Linked DNA regions of Homo sapiens. The protein of the gene in region 1 interacts with the protein of each later gene in a biochemical or structural test. Each region holds a gene or a part of one and is shown on either strand. Other genes may lie near its edges.

The links.
Region 2: the proteins of UBE2K (region 1) and RLIM form a complex in vitro, tested with the Homo sapiens proteins (2 studies listed by BioGRID).
Region 3: the proteins of UBE2K (region 1) and NEDD4L form a complex in vitro, tested with the Homo sapiens proteins (2 studies listed by BioGRID).

What each region holds. Positions count from the first base shown.
Region 1 is NC_000004.12:39,693,873-39,701,135, forward strand, and holds the start of UBE2K (ubiquitin-conjugating enzyme E2 K), read left to right. Parts: upstream 1-4,263; 5' UTR 4,264-4,455; coding exon 4,456-4,518; intron 4,519-7,263. UniProt on the Homo sapiens protein: Accepts ubiquitin from the E1 complex and catalyzes its covalent attachment to other proteins. In vitro, in the presence or in the absence of BRCA1-BARD1 E3 ubiquitin-protein ligase complex, catalyzes the synthesis of 'Lys-48'-linked polyubiquitin chains.
Region 2 is NC_000023.11:74,611,603-74,618,845, forward strand, and holds the start of RLIM (E3 ubiquitin-protein ligase RLIM), read right to left. Parts: upstream 3,023-7,243; 5' UTR 2,820-3,022; intron 1,042-2,819; exon of another isoform or gene 980-1,041; intron 1-979. UniProt on the Homo sapiens protein: E3 ubiquitin-protein ligase.
Region 3 is NC_000018.10:58,047,222-58,054,247, reverse strand, and holds part of NEDD4L (E3 ubiquitin-protein ligase NEDD4-like), read right to left. Parts: intron 7,023-7,026; exon of another isoform or gene 6,738-7,022; intron 1-6,737. UniProt on the Homo sapiens protein: E3 ubiquitin-protein ligase that mediates the polyubiquitination of lysine and cysteine residues on target proteins and is thereby implicated in the regulation of various signaling pathways including autophagy, innate immunity or DNA repair.

The DNA.
Region 1 (7,263 bases):
GTGGTTTCACCATGCTGGCCAGGCTGGTCTCAAACTCCTGACCCCGTAATCTGCCCACCTTGGCGTCCCAAAGTGCTGGGATTACAGGCATGAGCCACCGCACTTGGCTAGAGATGGGGTCTTTCTGTGATGCCAAGGCTGGTCTAGAATTCCTGGCCTCAGGTGATCCTCCCACCTCCACCACCCAAGTTGCTGAGATCACAAGCATGAGCCATCACAATTGGCCTTGGAATAATTTTAGATTACAAGAAAGTTGAAAAGATAGTACAGAGATTCTTTTTTTTTTTTTTTTTTTTGAGACGGAGTTTCGCTCTTGTTGCCCAGGCTGGAGTGCAATGGTGTGATCTTGGCTCACTGCAACCTTCGCCTCCTGGGTTCAAGCTATTCTTCTGCCTCAGCCTCCTGAGTAGGCGGGATTACAGGCATGCACCACCATGCCTGGCTAATTTTGTATTTTTGGTAGAGACGGGGTTCTCCATGTTGGTCAGGCTGGTCTCGAACTCCTGACCTCAGGTGAGCTGCCTGCCTTGGCCTCCCAAAGTGCTGGGATTACAGGTTTGAGCAATCGCACCCGGCCCTGTACAGAGATTCTTGTATACTCTTTACTCAACTTCCACTAATGTTAACATCATACATTACCATATGGCTATGTCAAAACTGAGAAATTAGCATTGTTATAATACCATTAACTAAATTACAGAATTTATTTATATTTCACTAGGTATGCCCTTTTGGTTCTAGGATCCAATTCAGGATACCACATTGCATTTAGCGTGGTGCTTCTTTTTTTTTTTTTTTTTTTTTTTGAGACAGAGTCTGGCTCTGTTGCCCAGGCTGGAGTGCAGTGGTGCAATCTTGGGTCACTGCAAACTTCGCCTCCTGGGTTTGAGCAATTCTCCTGCCTCAGTCTCCCGAGTAGCTGAGATTACAGGTGCCCGCCACTATGCCCAGTTAATGTTTTGTATTTTTAATAGAGACAGGGTTTCACCATGTTGGCCAGGCTGGTCTCCAACTCCTGACCTCAAGTGATCGGCCCACCTCAGCTTCCCAAAGTGCTGGGATTACAGGTGTGAGCCACCGTGACTGGCCTCGCATGGCGCTTCTTATTCACTTAAAATATATCCTGGAGATTGTTTCATATCAGTTAATATGCAGTTGTCTCATTAGAAGGACTACAGAATGAATTCCTAGAAGTGAAATTGCAGGAGCAGTGATTATGTGCATTTAAAGATTACCAAACCCTCTCCCTTGAAGAAATTACCAGACCCTTGTCCGGTGCAGTGGCTCACACCTTTAATCCCAGCTCTCAGGGAGGCAGAGGCGCGAGGATACCTTGAGCCCAGGAGTTTGAGACCTGCCTGGGCAGTATAGCGAGACCCCGTTCTCCACAGAAAGGGGGGAAAAAAGACAAAAAAAAAAAAAAAAAAAAAAAAGAAAGAAATTACCAGACCTTTTTTTGGAGAGGGGGAATTGTCTTTTTGTGGTTTTTCTCTTGAGACAGAGTCACCCTCTGTCACCCAGGCTGGAGTGCAGTGGTGTGATCTCCGCTCACTGCAACCTCCGCCTCCTGGGTTCAAGCGATTCTCCTGCCTCAACCTCCCAAGTAGTTGGGACTACAGCGCACGCCACCACACCCAGCTAAGTTTTTGTATTTTAGTAGAGTCGGGGGTCTCACCATGTTGCCCAGGCTGGTCTCGAATTCCTGAGCTCAAGCGATCCGCCCGCCTCGGCCTCCCAAAGTGCTGGGATTACAGACATAAATCAGGGCGCCCGGCCTGGACCCTTCTAACTGGTCCCCCTTTGAGTATTCCAAGTTTCTTCACATTCCAAGATTAGGATTGGACAGTGATAATGTAAAGTGCTCAAAAAGTTTTTGCACTCTTCAAAATAATTTTTTTAAGTCTACTGGCACAAATACATATAGCATTGCGTGATTTACATTACACCAATAATTCCTTGTACCATGACCTACGTATATGGTTGAGTCCTCTTAGGACCACTAGGGGGCTCTGCTAGAAGGGTTTATATAATTTATGTCAGCCCACTTAGGGGAAATGTTTTGAGATGATATTTTCGAATTCTGAACTCTTAAAACTTGAGAGAGATAATCTAATCCAGTTTTCTCGTTTCGTAGATGAGGAAATAAAAGCTGGCAAGAGAACTGCCATGGGAGAGAACTGGAATTTTAAAATCTCCTCTTGGTTCCTGGGGCGGGAGTTTAAGAAATTCTCTTTTGCCTTGTGCCCCCACTGATTCGCCTCCATTGGCTATTTCCATGTTTGCCACCACAATTTTAATTACTTTTGGTAAAACCATGTATTTGTGATATTTTTATAATAGATATTTTACTGATTGGCTAGGTGAAGAAAGTGCATGAAGTATAAACTTCTGAAATGACACCCTTATTACTTATTCCAAAATGTTCTATTCAAAATGCTTCTCAGTACCAAACCATTATTACTATGCACCTTAGAAACCACTTTCTTTTTTAAAAATTATTATCTTTAGAGACAGGATTTCACCATAGGGCCCAGGTTGGTCTCAAACTCCTGGGCTCAAGTGATCTGCTCCCCCTCGGCCTTCCAAAGTGCTGGGATTACAGGCGTGAGCCACCGCGCCCGACCAGAAACCACTTTCTTTTGTTTGTTTGTTTTTTGTTTTTTTTTGAGACGGAGTCTCGCTCCGTTGCCCAGACTGGAGTGCAGTGGCGCAATCTCGCTCGCTGCAAGCTCCGCCTCCCGGGTTCACGCCATTCTCCTGCCTCAGCCTCCCGAGTAGCTGGGACTACAGGCGCCCGCCACCACGCCCAGCTATTTTTTTTATATTTTTTTAGTAGAGACGGGGTTTCACCGTGTTAGCCAGGATGGTCTTGATCTCCTGACCTCGTGATCCGCCCGCCTCCGCCTCCCAAAGTGCTGGGATTACAGGCGTGAGCCACCGCACCTGGCCCAGAAACCACTTTCAAACTTACTTTCCACTTAAAATATTTTATACTTTTTGTTTTGTTTTGTTTTGTTTGAGACAGAATCTTGCACTGTGGCCCAGGCTGGAGTGCAGTGGCGCGATCTCGCTCACTGCAACCTCCGACCCCCAGGTTCAAGCGATGTTCCTGCCTCAGCCTCCAGAATAGCTGGGATTACAGGTGCCTGCCACCACACCTGGCTGATTTTTGTATTTTTAGTAGAGATGGGGTTTCACCATGTTGGCCAGACTGGTCTCGGACTCCTGACCTCAAGCGATCCGCCGCGCCAGCAAAAACGTTTTAGTCTTATCTGTACTCATTTACTCATTCAATATTTATTGAGTGCCTACTATCACCAGGCACCTTTGAGGCCTAGGTTTACAGAAATAAGGCTCCCCCTCCCCCACCCCGAGTCCCCTGAAGGGTACTGTAATTGTTTCCATTTCTCCAATTTTCACTTTAATATATGTGAATTTTCACATGCTTCATTCAGTTCAGTGGTTCTCATAATGTGGTCCCGGAACCAGCACCAACAGCAGCAGCAACTGGGAGACTTGTTAGAAGCGCAGTCTTAGGCCCACCCTACACTCTAGGGATGGGCATAGGAGTGTGTGTGTGTGTGTGTGTGTGTGTGTGTGAGAGAGAGAGAGAGAGAGAGAGAGAGATTGTGTGTGTGTGTCAAGCTCGGTATTAAATAGGTCAAAGAGCAACATCTGGCTTCTAAACCCACCCTCAGGCCTCTCCACCGAGTACCTGTCTCAAACCCAATCTGATCCAACAATAACCAGCCTTAATTCAATAATCTGTGCTACCTGAGATGATGGGAATAATCGTGGTACTATAAATGTTGCAGAACAAAAACGACTGCAGTAGATTTTCTGGGGCTACACCAACTGAAAATGGGCCGGACCGAGATCCGGGAGAGCGTTTTCCTGCGCTAGACACGGCGTTCAGCCTCCGGGTTCCGGGTCTAGCTGAGTCAGGGCGGCGTTCCAGCCGAGTGCGGCGTCGGAAACCCGTTCGGTTGCGCCCGAACCTTCGGTCAGAGGCCAGCGCTGGAAGCCCAGACCACAGCACCCGGGTTTAAACAGGAGCGGAGGCGCCGGGAAGGGCCGGGGGGGCCGGCTAGGGCCGGCCAGCTTGGAAGCCGCACCCTCGCGGCCCCAGACGCCGGCAGGGCGGAGCCACGCGGCCGCAGCCCCAGCCGAGACGCGAGCTCGTGGCTCGGGCGTATGGGGGCTCCAACGGGAGCGGCTGCGCCGCCCGGCCGGGTCAACGTCGTGCGCATGCGCCGACCCGGCGCCATTTTGGTGGCCGGGCGCGGAGGTGATTCCACACTGAGGCGAGCGCGGCGGCCGGGGTGGTAGTGGCAGTGTTCGTGTGCTCAGGTCTGAATCGCCGAGGGAGGAGGCGGTGGAGGAAGAGGTGGCGGCGGTGGCGGTGGTCGTAGCGGTGGCGGAGGAGGCGGGTACGAATCAGCTGCGGGCGGAGACATGGCCAACATCGCGGTGCAGCGAATCAAGCGGGAGTTCAAGGAGGTGCTGAAGAGCGAGGAGGTCAGAAATGAACTCCCGGATATCCCCCACCTCTGCCTGGGGCGGGAGGGTCCTCCCAGCTGCGACCCCGATATCCCCGGTAGTCCCTGGGTGGTCCTCCTTGCGGCCGCCCTTCTGCCTGTGAGGAAGCAGCAGTGTTCCCCTCCTCCTTCCGCCGCCTTCCCCTCCCCTCCCAGAGCGCTAGGATGGACGGTCTCGCGGGCGGGTGGTCTGGGGTGGAACATGGTTTGGGGAGGTGATGGACAGGGGGCAACTCCTCGGAGGGATGGAAGCTCACAAGAGAACCCGAGGCGGTGGCCGCAGCTGGAAATGTGGCTGTGGGGTGGGGAGGGAGCAGGCCGAGCCTGAGAAAACCCGGGAAGTGGGTTGGGGGAAGGGGAAAGGTGGTAACTGGATCCCAAGAGCAGTGCTGCTCGAAGGCCCACACTTTTGAGGGTATTCGGGGTTATTGCCTGTCAGGCCTTCACTGTTCTTTTCTTGGGGAAGGAGCAGTGAGTCCTTAGGTATTGATTAAAAAGGAAGGACATTCAGAGTTAGTCCTTCTTAGTTGGGTGTTAGGAGTCAAAGGGAGACATAATAGAATACTGTCTTATTTGGTGGCAGGGGTAAGGGAATTTTCACCTGAGTTAGCAAGTTAATTCCAAATAAGATAATTATCTCTTTTCCACTTAACCCCCAAATTCCTAGGCCTCATCTTTATTGACATCTCAATCTTTTGAGTGGGCAAAGGCAAGGTGTTTGGTGTATTAAAGACATGTAAATATTTTTAGTTAGGAAACAAATAATGGAATGTATGAGTAGCTTATTTCAAAATATTGTTTACAAGTTACAGATCAGAGAGACTGTCTTAAGACAGTGCCTCTGTGACTCGTGTTGTGCCACGAAACTTCATTATGATGTCCCTCATAGTTAACTTGATTCTTACTTTTGAAAAGCAGACCTATTAAAAATGTGAAATTTCACCAGATTAATACATTGTTTCATCTCCTTATTGAGATTTATCACGACTTAACAGATTTTCAAAAAAGTTGCCTCCCGTTGCTCTTAAGTCCTGCAGAATTTAGATACATTTGTACTACGTTTATTTATGTAAGATATTCACAGTGCTCTAGTAATTTGACTCAAAATTATGCAAGTATTAGTACAGTTTCTCATACCAAGATCAACAAGAATGCCAGATTGTCTTCCCCACATGAATTAAACAAAAAGTAATACAGAAAATGATTATTTTCAAGATTCACATACCATTATTGAATATATCATTGCTATTTGTGTTTTTCTTTTACAGTTAGTACTTTAATAGTGTCAATAATAATTTGTGAAATTCAGCATTCTAAGTATGTGATGAGTATACATGGAGAAAAAATTATTTAAAATTCAAAAATGACAACAGACTTATTGAAAGTAGTATATAAGTCATGGTCGGTTTTACAGAGCATGTGTATGAACTCTGACCTCTATGTTTGTTCATATGCCAAAACTCTGAATGGAAGGATGACTTTGTATTTTGTGGTACAATGCAGAAATAGAGTCATAAGTGTCTGTACTGATACAATGAAACAGCAATTTTAACTTATTTAATATGAAAATGTATTCCAGGTTAGTTGACATATATACTCCTAATGAAAGCAGTTGTTGTTGCCAACAACTGAAAACATTTCTTGTTTAATAAGGTTGTACAAGCCTGAAACTTAATAGACTTTTAATGCTTTATTTTCTGTTACTTACGGTAACAGAAACAGTAAGTTACTGCTCTGGTAATTAATGTGGTCTCTTTGCTTTTTATGAGCTGACTTTTCACCGTGGTATTCTTAGTACTAAGTTGAAGATTACCAGAAATACTTGTATTGCTCTCTAGTAATGCATATTAAAAAAACACTGCTCTTTATACGTAAGGGATGTTGAAGCCTTACTTCAGATAAGCATCAAAAGTGTTTCAGAAGAAGAAAACAGGAAATGCAAACAGACAGGTTTTTTGTTGTTTTTGTTGTTTGTTTGTTTTGTTTTGTTTTGTTTAGAACAGTACCTGTATAAATATGGAAGGAAACTTCTGGGAAAATAAGTTGGAAAGAACATTTAGGAAAGGGTCACATCATTTAATCTTGGAATAAATATAACCAATAAATAGCTTATTTTCACCAGTATTTTTTGATATTTTAGTAGCCCCAGTTCTATAAGTGTATTGTTATTTTCAACTCATTGAAGACTTGTAGTATAGTCCATGTGTTTCCTTTTTAAGGGTGTAAATACAGTCTTTTGAATGGCTGATCAAATAAATGTTTCATCATGTCACTTTTTTGGTAAATCAGCACTTTACCGAAGTTTATTTCATGTGTTTGTATGCTTGTGTTTACTAAGAACACTGGTTGATTTAAGGACTTTTTGGGGTGGCCTTATAAGAGCCTTTGTAAAGATAGCTGACGCTTACTGGATTCTGGTTATGAGAGATTATAAGTGGCCGTTCTTAGAGTGTGTTAAAATACAGCCAACAAGATAAATGTGAAAAAGCAAGGTGCAGAATAGTGTGGAAGAGGCCATTTGTGTCAAAAAGAAGGGCATGTGTGTATTTGCCTGTATGGGTAAAAGGTTTCATGAGAAATTGGTAAAATTGATTGCTTTCTGTGTAGAGAGTTGGGTGTCTGGGGTATAGATATTTTTTGAATTTTGTGTCATACAAATGTGATTTACTTAAAGGCATCATTTGGCCTCTTTCCCTTAAGACAGTGTTTGGAAATTTGTCAGATG
Region 2 (7,243 bases), on another chromosome or scaffold:
GAAAAGGGGGGATTGCTGGATAACCTTTAAGTATTAACAAAAGTTTCTGATGCAACATAACCTACAGACTTTTTACTACAACCTTTCATTTTCATTGCATTTCCTATCTAATTAGACAGCAATCAAACCCAGAAGTATAACGTCAGACAGGCCTGGGATAAAATGAGGGCTCCACCACTTAAAGCTATTTAACTGAGGACAAATTATACTTAACCTCTTTGGGTTTTTGGTTTCCTCTATAAAAGTTAACATTCTCATGAGGCTCTGTTGTGAGAATTATAAAATAATGCATATAAAGCACATGGCCTAGCACCACAGGCCTTCAGCAGAAGTTGGTTATGAATTTAGGCTAAGTATCCATCCCAGTTTGTCGGGGACAATCAAGGTTTGCACCTGCTGTCCAGGAATTATTAATGTTCCTTTTGTTCTTAAAAGTGTCTTGGTTAGGCAATAAATTATGTGGTTACCCTAATGATGATGATAATAATAATGAAAGGAGTCAATATCAATTAAAAGTATCATGTATCAATTATGAATTTTTGAATCTTAAAGGAAAAAAATCAACCACCACACACAAAGTAACGTAAAATTATACTCTCGTAAGCTATTCTGATATTTCATTTAGTTATCCAATGAACATTTAAATGTTATTTTACTTATACTCATGCCATTCCAACAATGATATAAGACAACAAATTTTTTGTTGTTGTTGTTCTATACAGGTATTGGTAAACTTCAGACATTATTTTAAAGAGTCAAATTCACAGATAAAGCACTGGTGAGTTCCAGGTATCCAGAAACATTACCCTTTTAATTCCCAGTGAAAAGTACCCATTCTTATCATGAAGAATACCCAACACCATCTAACATCTATCAATGAGCCCATCCAATTACAGGGCCTGCAAAATAGAACAATAAATATTTGTAAACATGCATTCTACACATAAATCATCAGGAGACGCAACAAAAAATAAATTACCTGACTGTTATGACATAGTATTGAAATACAATAAACTGGATTTTAGTTTTCTTCACTCTGCTCTAGAAAAAAAAAGAATCCATTATTCTTCCTCTTTAAAAAGATACACATTTTCTTTGAATTAGACACAACCTAAAAAAAAAAATACAGACACACCATAACCCAACCTAATTCAATATTAGTATTAGGGCATTTGGGGAGAGCAAGAAGGTCAGAGGGGACCAGGAGTTAGATAAAAGATGTCTTCTAAGACTGAGAGACAATTTACGTTTTATTATAAGCTTGCTTAAAATAAGCCTTTCCTTATCAGACCAGTAATTATTTTCAGATTCTGATAGTCACTTTCAAGGACTTATCTGGCACATTACACTAGCCTAAGGTAGGAACTAAAGTATTAAAATTCATCAGAACATCATGGACTAAAAAAATCTTTGTAACATTTTTCAGTAAGTGGAGTGTGTCCTAAAATCAAGTTTTAAAAAGTGGATTGGTCTTTCTAGCTACCTAAGCTATATTTCTACAGTTTAGAAAAGTCATGGGGGGGGAGGGGTTATAATTGTGCCAGTCCTCCAGGGAAGATACAATGTACTTAATGGGGTGATAAGTAGTTACTCTGTCTATAATCACGAAGAATGAAAGAAATGATTAGTAGCAGTAGGTTTATTATTTCTTCCCCCTTTCAATCAGTCCAAAACACTGCGGTTAATTCTGATTCAGGAAATGCGGGCTCCTTACTTCTGGCAAAAAATCATTGTGGGGTCTTGCAAATGGAAGATGACAATCTGATACAACTGCTTCCTCTTGCCCCAAAATGAAAAAAAAAATGACCTCAATAACAAGACTGCTAGGCCTCAGATTCCCAGACTAACCTGTGGAATAAGTATGGTGAAACTGTCTAGGGAAGGAACGTGGCTGTCTCCTCCATCTTGAAATTAATCAGCATAAGGGAAAAAGGGACCGAGTATTCAGGAAGCAGAAGCCCAACCGGTTAATACTAGTTACTAAGCTATGGCATGCGTGGCAGGTACCGTCTGCAGAAGCAGAGACCCCCCTAGGCTTTTTTTTTTTTTTTTAATGGGGGAGGGATTGAGTTGTTGGTGGATTAAACACAAATTAACTTGAAAATTTGGCCCAATTCCATCCCTTATCCAGGAGAACACAACAAACACCTAACGGCTTTTCCCTCTCTTTTGCGGGGGGATCCTTCCAGTGATACCTGGCAAAGGATATGCCAGGGTTATTCGAGCAAGGGAGTAAACCACATTTGCCTCAGATCCTCAGGGAAGATGTCATCGCGGCCCCAGGGGGCGCCTAATTGGTAATACCCTGCAGAAGGGCTCAAAATGAGGTTTTGGAAATCTAAAGGCCCAAGAGTTGCCAGCATCTCACTTGGGGCAGCCTGATTTTTTACTTCCCTTTTCCCAAACCCAAGCCCGCCATGGAAAACGCGGGGAGGTCAGGGAAGCCTCCAGAGAACAGAGAAGAAAAAGCCTGAGACGTTCTAAGATTCTGACGCCTGAGGCCAAAACTCAAAAACTGCCTCCCCCGATTTCCTAAGGCTCCGGAGGGCCTGGGCTGCAGCTCGCGCGGCCACCGAGAGGAAGTACTACCCACCTCCTTCCCCTTCAAAGAGCCTGTCGACTATACCACTCAACTAAAATGGCAGCGGCGACTACGCCACGGAGCCCCCCGCAGCAACGGGCCTGGGGTCCGGAGGCGGCGCTGAGCCTCTGCCACGACGCGTCACTCGGGCCATTTTGAGAGAACGCGGCAGCCGCGGCTCCGCTGTCTTCCTCTCGCTCTACATCATTTCTCACAGGATTCCCAAGTCTTCACTTACTAGGTTTTAGGGTCAGGATCCGACTCGGTTGGTTCGGCCGCCGCCGCCGAGGCTGCTCCGCACCTCCCTGGCCGCCGCTCTCAAGCCCGCCTCCAATGAGTAGCTGGTTGAGACCCGCCTCTAGCCCAGCGCCTGCTCGGAGACGTTGCTCAGGCAGCCATTATCTTCCCCATTGTTACCAAGCAGCGACAGGAAACGACTGCCCACAACAGGAAGTGATGATGCCGCGTCCCGGCACCGCAGCCCCACTCCCAGCCTATTAGCCAATCCCAGTCGATTCCTCGAAAAGGCTCCGCGGGAGGAGGAGGGGGACGGCAGACGACGCGGCAAGGCGGGCGGCGGTTTGGAAAAGGAAAGCTGTTATGACGCCCACCATGTGACAGGCCCCACCCTCCTCCGCCATTTTGAATTGTGGCGAGAAATTTGCGTTCTGAGAATTGTGGGAACCTTCGCTTTCCCATTTTGAAAACTGAAGGACGTCACGGTCTGACTGCTTGAAGACATTTTCAGAGAGAGAGAAATGTGATATTAGTCTACCCTGACATCACATCAGTTCACACAATCCGTGCAGACCAGTTCAAAAAGTAGCCTGCGTTTTATTCAACATGTATTTACACAGTGCCAACTGCATGTCAAGCACCATTGTAGCTGCTTAGGAAATTAAAATAGACCAAAATTAAGAAAGAAAACAGGCCACGTTCGGTGGCTCACGCCTGTAATCCCAGCACTTTGGGAAGCCGAAGCGGGCGGATCACCTGAGGTCAGGAGTTCGAGACCAGCCTGGCCAACATGGTGAAACCCAGTCTCTACTAAAAATACGAAAATTAGCCGGGCGTGGTGGCGGGCGCCTGTAATCTCTGCTAATCGGGAGGCTGAGGCAGGAGAATAGCTGAACCCAGGAGGCGAAGATTGCAGTGAGCCGGGATCTCGCCACTGCACTCTAGCCTGGGTGACAGAGCAAGGCTGTGTCTCAAAAAAAAAAAAAAAAAAAAAAAGAAAACAGATCAAAATCCCAGTTCTCTTGAGTCTTTATAGGGGCCAGGGACAATAATTTAGAAAAAATCAAACATAAATACATATCATGTTAGTGATAAATGCCAAGGAGAAAAATCAAGGAAGGGGGACAGAAGAGTTCCTTGTAGGGACAAACGGATTCGTGATGTTTAAAAGACTGATAACTTTGAGGCATTAACTCTAAAGTATTCGAAAAAGGGCGGTGATTGTAAAAGGGTGGGAAAATCTGATAACGTTGGGATTTGTAAAAGGGCAGTTAAAGAAGGCCTTTCTTAGGTAGTAATGCCTGAAAGAATTGAGGGAACTCGCCACACAGCATGCCACTCCCATTGTCACAGTTAAAGGAAAACCTTACCCAAGTTTTTAGATTCTTTTCCTTTTCCCAATTTTTCTGTTTTCCAATAGCATGCCAGCTATGCTGGCTTTGTTACGGTTTTTCCAACAAAGCTAACTTCTTCCTACTTCAACTACTTTACCTTTGCTGGAATATTTTACTTTCATATCTTTGCTTTCATCATCCAAGCCTCGCAATTATTAACTTCCTAGAGAAGCCTTCCCTGACCACCCTACCTAAAATAACTTCTTCCTGAAGGCGGAAAAAGGTCTGAGGAAAAAAAAAAAAAGAAAAAAGTAATAACGACTTCTCCCATCTCCTTACCTGCTTACTTTTCTTGTAAAACACTTAATCTGAAAGTAAGTTATTTATTTGTTTGTTTACTTCACCCTTTCTGAGCAGTAAACCTCTCTGTTTTGTTCACTGTTGTGTCCCCAGCGACCACATAGTAAGCCCTCAAAATACTTTGGGAGAATTACCCCCTCACCATGATGGATGTTATATCAGCCTGGAATATAAGTATTTCACTCCAAGCAGTTAAAACAATATCCCTCATACTTACCTGCCCAACTCCCTAGAAGACTCATTGATATTGTCATTTTTGGCAGAGGGATACATGATTTAGGCGCTGTGTCTCTACTCAGGTTTTTGTCTTATTTTACATAATCATGTACTAGAACGATTACCTAGAACGTGTAAAAGGAATTCTTCAGTAGCCTGCAATTGCCATTAAGCCTGATATTCTGATTATGGCAATAACATTAGCCACTCCTTAACGTATTCTTGAGGCTTATGTGGCTTAATCTAAAATATAAAATCATAAAAGAAGTGGAAGAAAATACAGGTTACTATTTCTGTCCTTTCTTCCTTCCTTCCTTCCTTCCTTCCTTCCTTCCTTCCTTCCTTCCTTCCTTCTTTCTTTCTTTTTTTTTTTTGATGGAGTCTTGCTTTGTTGCCCAGGCTGGAGTCCAGTGGCATGATCTCAGCTCACTGCAACCTCCGTCTCCTGGGTTCAAGCGATTCTCCTACCTCAGCCTCCCCAGTAGCTGGGATTGCAGGCATGCACCACCACGCCTGGCTAATTTTTGTATTTTTAGTAGAGATGAGGTTTCACCATGTTGGGCAGCCTGGTCTCCAACTCCTGACTTCATGATCCGCCTGCCTGGGCCTCCCAAAGTGTTGGGATTACAGGCGTGAGCCACTGTCCAGGCCTAGGTTAATATTTCTATAGCCTTGGGGATGCAGAAGCACTTTTGAAATACAACACAAAATCCATAATGGGAAAGACTAATAAGTACAACTTCATAAATAAAAGTAAACCTTCTAAATGTCAAAATACAAGGTTGGTAAAGTTAAAAGACAAATGATAAATTGAAAAAAATCATTTCATAATGACATATTAGAGCCAAGGGGTAATATCTTTACTTAATAAAAAGACGAAACACTAGCAAAAATGTTACATATGTGATAAACACATATGGCTAATATCAGCCTATAAAGAGTTGTTAAACATTGATTTTTAAAAAGATAAATACCGGCCGGGCGCAGGGGCTCACACCTGTAATCCCAGCACTTTGGGAGGCCAAGGCAGGCGGATCACAAGGTCAGGAGATCAAGACCAGCCTGGCCAATATGGTGAAACCCCGTCTCTACTAAAAAAAATACAAAAATTAGCTGGGCGTGGTGGCGTACTCACTCCTGTAGTCCCAGCTACTTGGGAGGCTGAGGAAAAGGAATTGATTGAACCCGGGAGGCAGAGGTTGGAGTGAGCCGAGATCATGCCACTGCACTCCAGCCTGGGTAACAGCAAGACTGCATCTCAAAAAAAAAAAAAAAAAAAAAAGAGATAAATACCTCCATTTCAAAATGTGCAAGGAACATGAATGGATAATTCATAAAAGGATAAAACACGTGGCTGATAAGCATATGACAATATATTCTTTTTTTCTTGTTAGTAAATAACCTTGTACTTGAAAATATATTCAGCCTCACTAGTAATTAATCAAAAATAAAAACAATGAGGTACAACTATTATGTATCCATAATAATTAAAAAACAATAGCTGGGTTCGGTGGCTCACGCCTGTAATCCCAGCACTTTGGGAGGCTGAGGCGGGTGGATTGCCTGAGGTCAGGAGTTTGAGACCAGCCTGGCCAACATGGTGAAACCCCGTATCTACTAAAACTTCAGAAAAAAAATTAGTTGGGCGTGGTGGTGGGCACCTATAATCCCAGCTACTCGGGAGGCTGAGGCAGGAGAATCGCTTGAACCGGGAGGCAGAGGTTGCAGTGAGCCGAGATTGCGACATTGCACTCCAGCCTGGGCAACAAGAGTGAAACTCTGTCTCAAAAAAACAAAACAGAAAAATTTTATGAACTAAAAAATTTTTTAAAAAGTTCCTTTTTTTGCCTGTTAGAATGTCAAGGATAAAAAATCGATAATATTAATTGTTGATGAAGATCCTATGAAATGGGCACATTTGTATTGCCAGTGGGACAAATTGATATCAGTTTTCTTTTTTTTTTTTTTTTTGAGACAGAGTCTCACTCTGTCACCAGGCTGGAGTGCAGTGGCGCAATGTCGGCTCACCGCAACCTCCACCTCCTGGGTGCAAGCAATTCTCCTGCCTCAGCCCCCCGAGTAGCTGGGATTACAGGCGTGCGCCACCACACCCAGCTAATTTTTGTAGTTTTATTAGAGACGGATTTTCGCCATGTTGGATAGGATGGTCTCGATCTCTTGACCTTGTGATCCGCCCACCTCAGCCTCCCAAAGTGCTGGGATTACAGGCATGAGCCACCACTCCCAGTTTTCTTAAGGCAATTTGGTAATGTGTTTCAAAAGACTCATATTCATAGTATTTGACAAACATGTCCAGGTACAGAAATTTATTTTAAGGAAAGAAGTGGACAAATTTGCAAATATGTATGTAATGAATGTGCAAAGATGCTAATTACAGTGTGGTTTATAACATCGAAATATTGACAAATCAGAAAAAATAACCATCCAACAACAATTAGTTATAGTATAACCACATAATAGACTACCATGTAGCATTAAAAATAAGTACCTAGAG
Region 3 (7,026 bases), on another chromosome or scaffold:
AAGTTTGTGGAGCCTGTCACGCTGTGGGACACAAACACATTTTTTCCCCATTACTAAATAGTACTGAGTGCTTACTAAGCAAAGTAATTCTCTAAATAGATTAGGGTTACTTGCATTTTCTGAAAAACCAAAGTAACTTCCAGCATTAAGAAAAAAAGAACTTATACATGTAAATAAAACCCATTCAACACGAACATCTTCAATTAAACAAGAAAAATTAATAGAAAGGGTCTTCATCTCCTACATTACCTCTGACCCAAAGTCTGCCCTCACCGGCCTCCTCACATTAGTGACATCCAACACTCACTTGCCAAAACATAAAACTAAAACTTAACATCACATAGGTCAGGTAAAAGAAATGATTGGCTTTGCATTTTCCAACATTCATTCATAACAGATGTTCAAAGGGGACAACTCAGTGCAACCTCCGGTCAGCTAGGGCAGTGTTGGCCATGGTTCCCAAGTGCACTTCTCAGTATTACAACAATCTCAGCATTTACCCACAATGGGAATTCCAGCTTTACAACACACTTTTAAATATACATTATAAGACATGATCCAAAACTGCACCCAAGAGACGAAGAGCTAAACCTTGAGTCAGGTTGGAAACTGGAAATTAATTAGAATGTAAAAATTGTTGGCCGGGCACGGTGGCTCATGCCTGTAATCCCAGCACTTTGGGAGGCCGAGGCAGGTGGATCACAAGGTCAGGAGTTCGAGACCATCCTGCCTAACATGGTGAAACCCCGTCTCTACTAAAAATACAAAAAAATTAGCCGGGCGTGGTGGTGGGCACCTGTAGTCCCAGCTACTTGGGAGGCTGAGGCAGGCGAATGGCGTGAACCCGGGAGGCAGAGCTTGCAGTGAGCCGAGATTGCACCACTGCACTCCAGCCTGGGCGACAGAGTGAGACTCCATCTGGAAAGAAAAAAAAAAAATTGTTAACACAGGCAAGACCAGGAGCTGGAGATGCAAATCAGGCCCTTGTCACTGCACTTCTGGATCCCCTCAAAACAGGGAACACGGTCTCTGCCTGGTAGACAGGAGATGGAAACATGCCGGAGCCACTCAAGCAATCCATCTACATGTCACTTCAGTGTGCCTGGGAAACCATTGGTCCACTGCAGCCCAAACAAACAAAGTGACAGGTGATGGGACATCACCCAAACCAGCAAGAGGACAGTTCCCTTGGTTTGTTCATCCTCTTCATGGGACCACCATCCTTACAAGCCTTTCCAAGTTCCACCTTCACAGAACAGGTTTCACATCACAGCTTTTTTTTGAGACAAAGTCTCACTCTGTCACCCAGGGTGGAGTGCAGAGTTGCAATCTCAGCTCACCACAACCTCCATCTCCCAGGTTCAAGCGATTCTCCTGCTTCAGCCTCCCAAGTAGCTGGGATTACAGGGGCACGCCACGACGCCCAGCTAATTTTTGTATTTTTAGTAGAAACGGGGTTTTGCCATGTTGGTCAGGCTGGTCTTGAACTCCTGGCCTGAAGTGATCTGCCTGCCCTGGCCTCCCAAAGTGCTAGGATTATAGGCATGAGCCACCATGGGTGGCCACATCATAGCTTTTTAAACTTAAAAAAAAAAAAAAAGAAAAACTCACTTTTGAATGGCCCTTTTCTTTTGGTGAATAGGAGGTATAAAAAGAATACAAAATCTCTTGGTAGATGTCTGCCTGCCAAGAAGTCACCAAACACTGAATTTGATGACAGCAAGGGAATCTGAGAGCCTTGACATTTAACTTGGTGCGTTTTGAATCAATGCAGGACTGAAGTCAGGGACAAAAAGTTGACTGGAGTGTCAAATTTAAGCTAGTTACCCCAGATACACTTATATAATAAGGCTTTTCTCACCTAAAGGGATTACAATAATCAGCACTCCAGTTCAAAACAAAATATTACAATCATAGTGAGATTCTATTATTCATGAAACAAGAGGCCCAGATCTTTACATCGCCAACCACCAAACGCCCTGCTACAACTTCAGCCACGGTCTTGCATCAGGAATCAAGAATGTCTCTGCTAATCAAACACCAGTAGTTGTGATAATTATCAGCTCCTTCTCAGAGTAACAGAAAGTTACAGAAGGGTCCACACAGCAGAACTAGGACTATTTAGAAAGTCTCTACTAAATCTAAATCTAGTTTCTAGTTTTCTAAATCTAGTTTTTTTTATTCTCAACTCTAAATTATGCTATCATTTCCATATTCCAGCAACAAGCAACACCCGAGCCAACAGTAACATTAAACAGTGAACAGCACAAACATTGCCACCTATAGTCTGAAAATGAAATACATTTGAAATACAGTTGTGACCTGGAAGAGAAACAATGTAAAAACAGAAAGTAACATTTTGTCACACTTCTTCCACCCTTCTTTAATCCTCCTGCCCTGATACTTATTACCATTATATTATTTATATATTATTCTAATCCTCCTTAGCATGGACTACCAAAAGATCAACATATAGTTTGCTTTATCGCTAATTAACAAATATTTCAGTAAGACAGACCCACTTATTCAAATACCTGCAACATCAAAAAGCTTGAAAACTCTTAAGTTAGGATCTCTTTTTTTCACTGCTGCTACTCATCTAAGACTGGAAATTCAAGGGCAACAATAAAATCTGTTTAATGCAGATCTTGTAACTCAAAATAAAAAATTTAATTGGCTCTTAATCTATCACACATTGCCATGTTTTCATGATGCCATTTTAAACACCGCACAAGCAAACAGGTTATTAAATTAGCAATGGGCATAGTTGCTTCCTTTTGAAATGAATGCAAAAGTAATTTAGCAGAAACTCCAATGTACTGCTGCAATAATGTCACACTCAATCATTCTTAATATTTTTAAACAGTTTTATTCAGATGTAATTCATACACAACACAATTCATCCATTTGAAGGGTACAAAACTCAATGACTTTTAATATGTTGGGAGTTCTTCTTTGGGGTGATCTTTGTTTGTTTGCCTTTGTTTTCTGAGACAGTGTCTTGCTCTGTCACCCAGGCTGGAGTGCAGTGGCATGATCATGGCTCACTGCAGCCTCAACCTCCCAGGCTCAAGCCATCCTCCCACCTCAGCCTCCCCAGCAGCCAGGACCACAGGTGCGTGCCACAACACGCAACTAAGTTTTTGTATTTTTTGTAGAGGTGGGGTTTCACCACATTGCCCAGGCTGGTGTCAAACTCCTGGGCTCAAGCAATCTGTCCACCTCGGCCCCCCAAGATTATTCACTTTTCTTGGGAAAATATACCAGATATATTGAGGTACTCCAGAATCCCAAAACAAACTTTCCCAAGTAAGCTTCCTGGTGATGTGGGCACACACTGCATTGAAGAAATGCCTGAGTACCATGCAATGGTTTTCATTTGAATTGCATTCTGTAATGGTAAAGAAACTACAGTCATCTGAGGATCACCATTTGTCACTGTCCTCACCCTTTAAGCAAAACTATTACTATTCTTTTTTTATTTTTTATTTTTAGTTTTGCTCTTGTTGCCCAGGCTGGAGCACAATGGCCCGAACTTGTCTCACTGCAACCTCTGCCTCCCAGGTTCAAGCAATTCTCCTGCCTCAGCCTCCCGAGTAACTGGGATTACAGTTGCCTGCCACCAAGCCCAGCTAATTTTTGTATTTTTAGTAAAGACGGAGTTTCACCATGTTGGCCAGGCTGGTCTCAAACTCCTGACCTCAGGTGATCCTCCAGCCTCGGCCTCCCAAAGTGCTGGGATTACGGGCATGAGCCACTGCCCCAGCCTGTTATTATTGTGACAGAGTCTCACTCTGTCACCCAGTCTGGAGTGCAGTGGTGCGATCTCGGCTCACTGCAATCTCTGCCTTCAGGGTTCAAGCTATTCTCCTGCCTCAGCCTCCAGAGTAGCTGGGATTACAGGTGTCCACCACCACACCCAGCTGATTTTTTTTTCATTTATTTATTTATTTATTTTGTAGAGACAGGGTTTCACCATGTTGGCTGGGCTGGTCTCAAACTCCTGACCTCAAGTGATCCACCAGCCTTGGCCTCCAACGTGCTGGGATTACAGATGTGAGCCACTATGTCTGGCCTGAGCAAAATTATTTTTATTCCTTAAATTAAGGAAACTGATGTTCAATAATGAAATAAACAATCATAACATTCTGATTTAATAAAACTAAATATAATGAAAATTCAAATGTCAATGTCTACAAATTCCACAGACACTACATCATTGAAGAAAATAAATTCTATTCATTAGTCTTTTTTTTTTTTTTTTTTTTTTTGGAGACAGGGTCTCACTCTGTCGCCCAGGCTAGAGTGCAGTGGCATGATCTTGGCTCACTGCAACCTCTGCCTCCAGGTTTAAGTGATCCTTCCACCTCAGCCTCCCAAGTAGCTGGGACTACAGGCACGTGCCGCCATGTTTGGCTAACTTTTCTATTTTTTGTAGAGACGGGGTTTCACCACGTTGCCCAGCCTGGCCTCAAACTCCTGAACTCAAGTGATTCTCCTGCCTCGGCCTCCCAAAATGCTAGGATTACAGGAGTGATCACTGCACCCGGTCCCTATAATCAAATTTTAAAACAACATGTTATATTCATGAATTTTAAAAACTGATTTTAAATGTCACCATGAAAACTAGGTCCTTTTAACATTTGTTTCTCAAACATTACCTATATGTCCTGGGTATACAGTCTACCATCCAGCATCTAGGCCCGACACAGGCACTTGGACTTGGCATGACTGGGCAAGCCTTCTCTCTCTTCAGAAAACGGCCTGTCAGCATTCACCTTGAGATCCAAGCAAAATCTAAACCACAATTTTTGAAAGCAATCTTGTCCTCACCGTTTTGCACAGCTGCAAAGATGGCACATAGGGTTTCCCAAGTAATCTCTTGAAAATACACACAGGCCACTTTTTAAAAACTAACAACTATTCTTAATCACTTACAGACGGCCATCCAGTTGGCTATGATCTAGGCCCCCAGTTCCTTCTGTGCTAATGCCTATTTAAGAGCACTTCTCTTTTTCTAGCACTTTCCTCAAACACAGAAAAGCAGAAATCTGACTACTCGTTGACTTAAAAGTACTGAATGATTGGGGATATTGAAACTGATGGCATGGAGTTTTCCCAGGTTTCTAGTCACTGTAATTCATCAATTCTAAAATATCCTTTTTCTCATATTTCAACTTCTCTGAAATAAGGATGCTTCATAAGATGGACAGTATGTCATAACTTGACAGCAATTTTTTCTTCGTGGTACATGAAATAATGGCATATCTTAAAAGTGACAGCACACTAAAGTGAAAGAAATATGGCATCCACGCCAAAGGTTAGCCTTAAAGGTTTGTTATGAAGTGGATAATTATATGTAAACAAGTAGAAAGACCCCTAAGACAACAGAAAGTAGTGGTGACTGCAACCATAGCACAACTAGCTGCCACATCTCAAAGGACATAATGCCAGCCACTGACTGTAACTAGGTTAGAATGTGGCCCCAATTAAGCCAGATTTTTACCATTTTCATGAAATTTCCAAGCTTTAAAACACTCTAGAGACCACATTAAGCAGGGTTCCTGGTCAAATCGGGCCCAGCAGCCATCAGTTTGCAACCAGTGGTGTTTATTTCTCTTACATTATCTTAAATAATCTAGATAGTAAGACCTTTCAAGGCATTTGTCAGAAGGGGAGGATATTCAGCATGTTAAAAACTAGGCCTTTCTATTCAAAATAGCTGGCTCCATAACTTAACTTGTTTTGTGTCCTTATGCAGGTCACGTAACCTCTTTGAGCTTTCATTCCTCATCTGTAAATCACAGCCTACCTCACACAGTTCTCATGAGAACTAAATGACATAGTATGTGCACAAGGCTTAGCACTTTGCTCTCATGGCGCATCTTAAAAGTGACAGCATCTTAAACTGAAAAGCATACAGGATCCATGCCAAAAGTTAACCTTAATGGTTGATTAAGAAGTAGATAATTATATGTAAATGAGTAGAAAGACCCCCAAGCCAGCAGGGAGCCGTGGTGACTGGCACCTATAAGCAGATCTGCCACATCTCAAAGGACATAATGCAAGCCACTGATTGTGACTAGGCTAGAATGTGGCCCCAATTAAGCCGGATTTTTACCATTGGTATAGAAGAGGCATTCAAAAGTAGCCAACTATCCGTGTTTGTACAGGATAAGGAGAGAAGGTGCCATTTATCCTATGTCAGCCTGGCCTTCATTTCTATGCCATTTGCTTCATTTTAACTACTAACGAAATTACTTAATGTCATATCTAATGTGATAAGAAGCTGCCATTCAATCCCAGTATTTTGTTCAGTAGAAAAATCTTTTCAATAAATGATACCTTTCTAAAATGGAATAAAAGATTTCAGAAAGTTAGCGGTAACATTCATAAGTAAACTATGCCAAAATGCACTACAGATTGCCAAAAATAAAGAAATAAAACAAGAAATCCACAAGGACTCAAGCCAGATGCAGAAACTAGTCCAAAGTGTTCTGATTCCAAACCAAATCTGATCTTGGGCCATGAATCAGAAGTTTTGTTAAACTGCTAATCCCTCTAACACCAAAAGTCCTTCATCTGATGGTTTTGAATCTGGCTACCTAAAGTGACATGACTTAAATCAGGGTAAATATGAATTATAACTCACCAGAGAAACCTCCGCCCGAAACACACAGAAAAAATTAAACAGCACATACATTCACACAAGCAAAGCCCACATCTCAACCCCTTACCTTCTACAAAGTGGACAGACCTCTGCTGATGACGCAAGGAACAGCACCTAAGCCCTGTGCTTTGGCATCCCCGTTTTCTGGGTTCATGCAATGCTTCATCATCAGCAGTGCAGAGAGCTCAACAGTCTTTATGAGATGGGACATAACTAAGTGCACTCCAAACATACCATGCTTTTCAACAATCTCAAATCAAAATACGAATCTACTTTTAAGAAATGTGGTAGGTATGTGTGTCTACTTTGCTAAAAGATTTATGAGGTCACTCTTCTAAATAGCGGTCAAAATATCT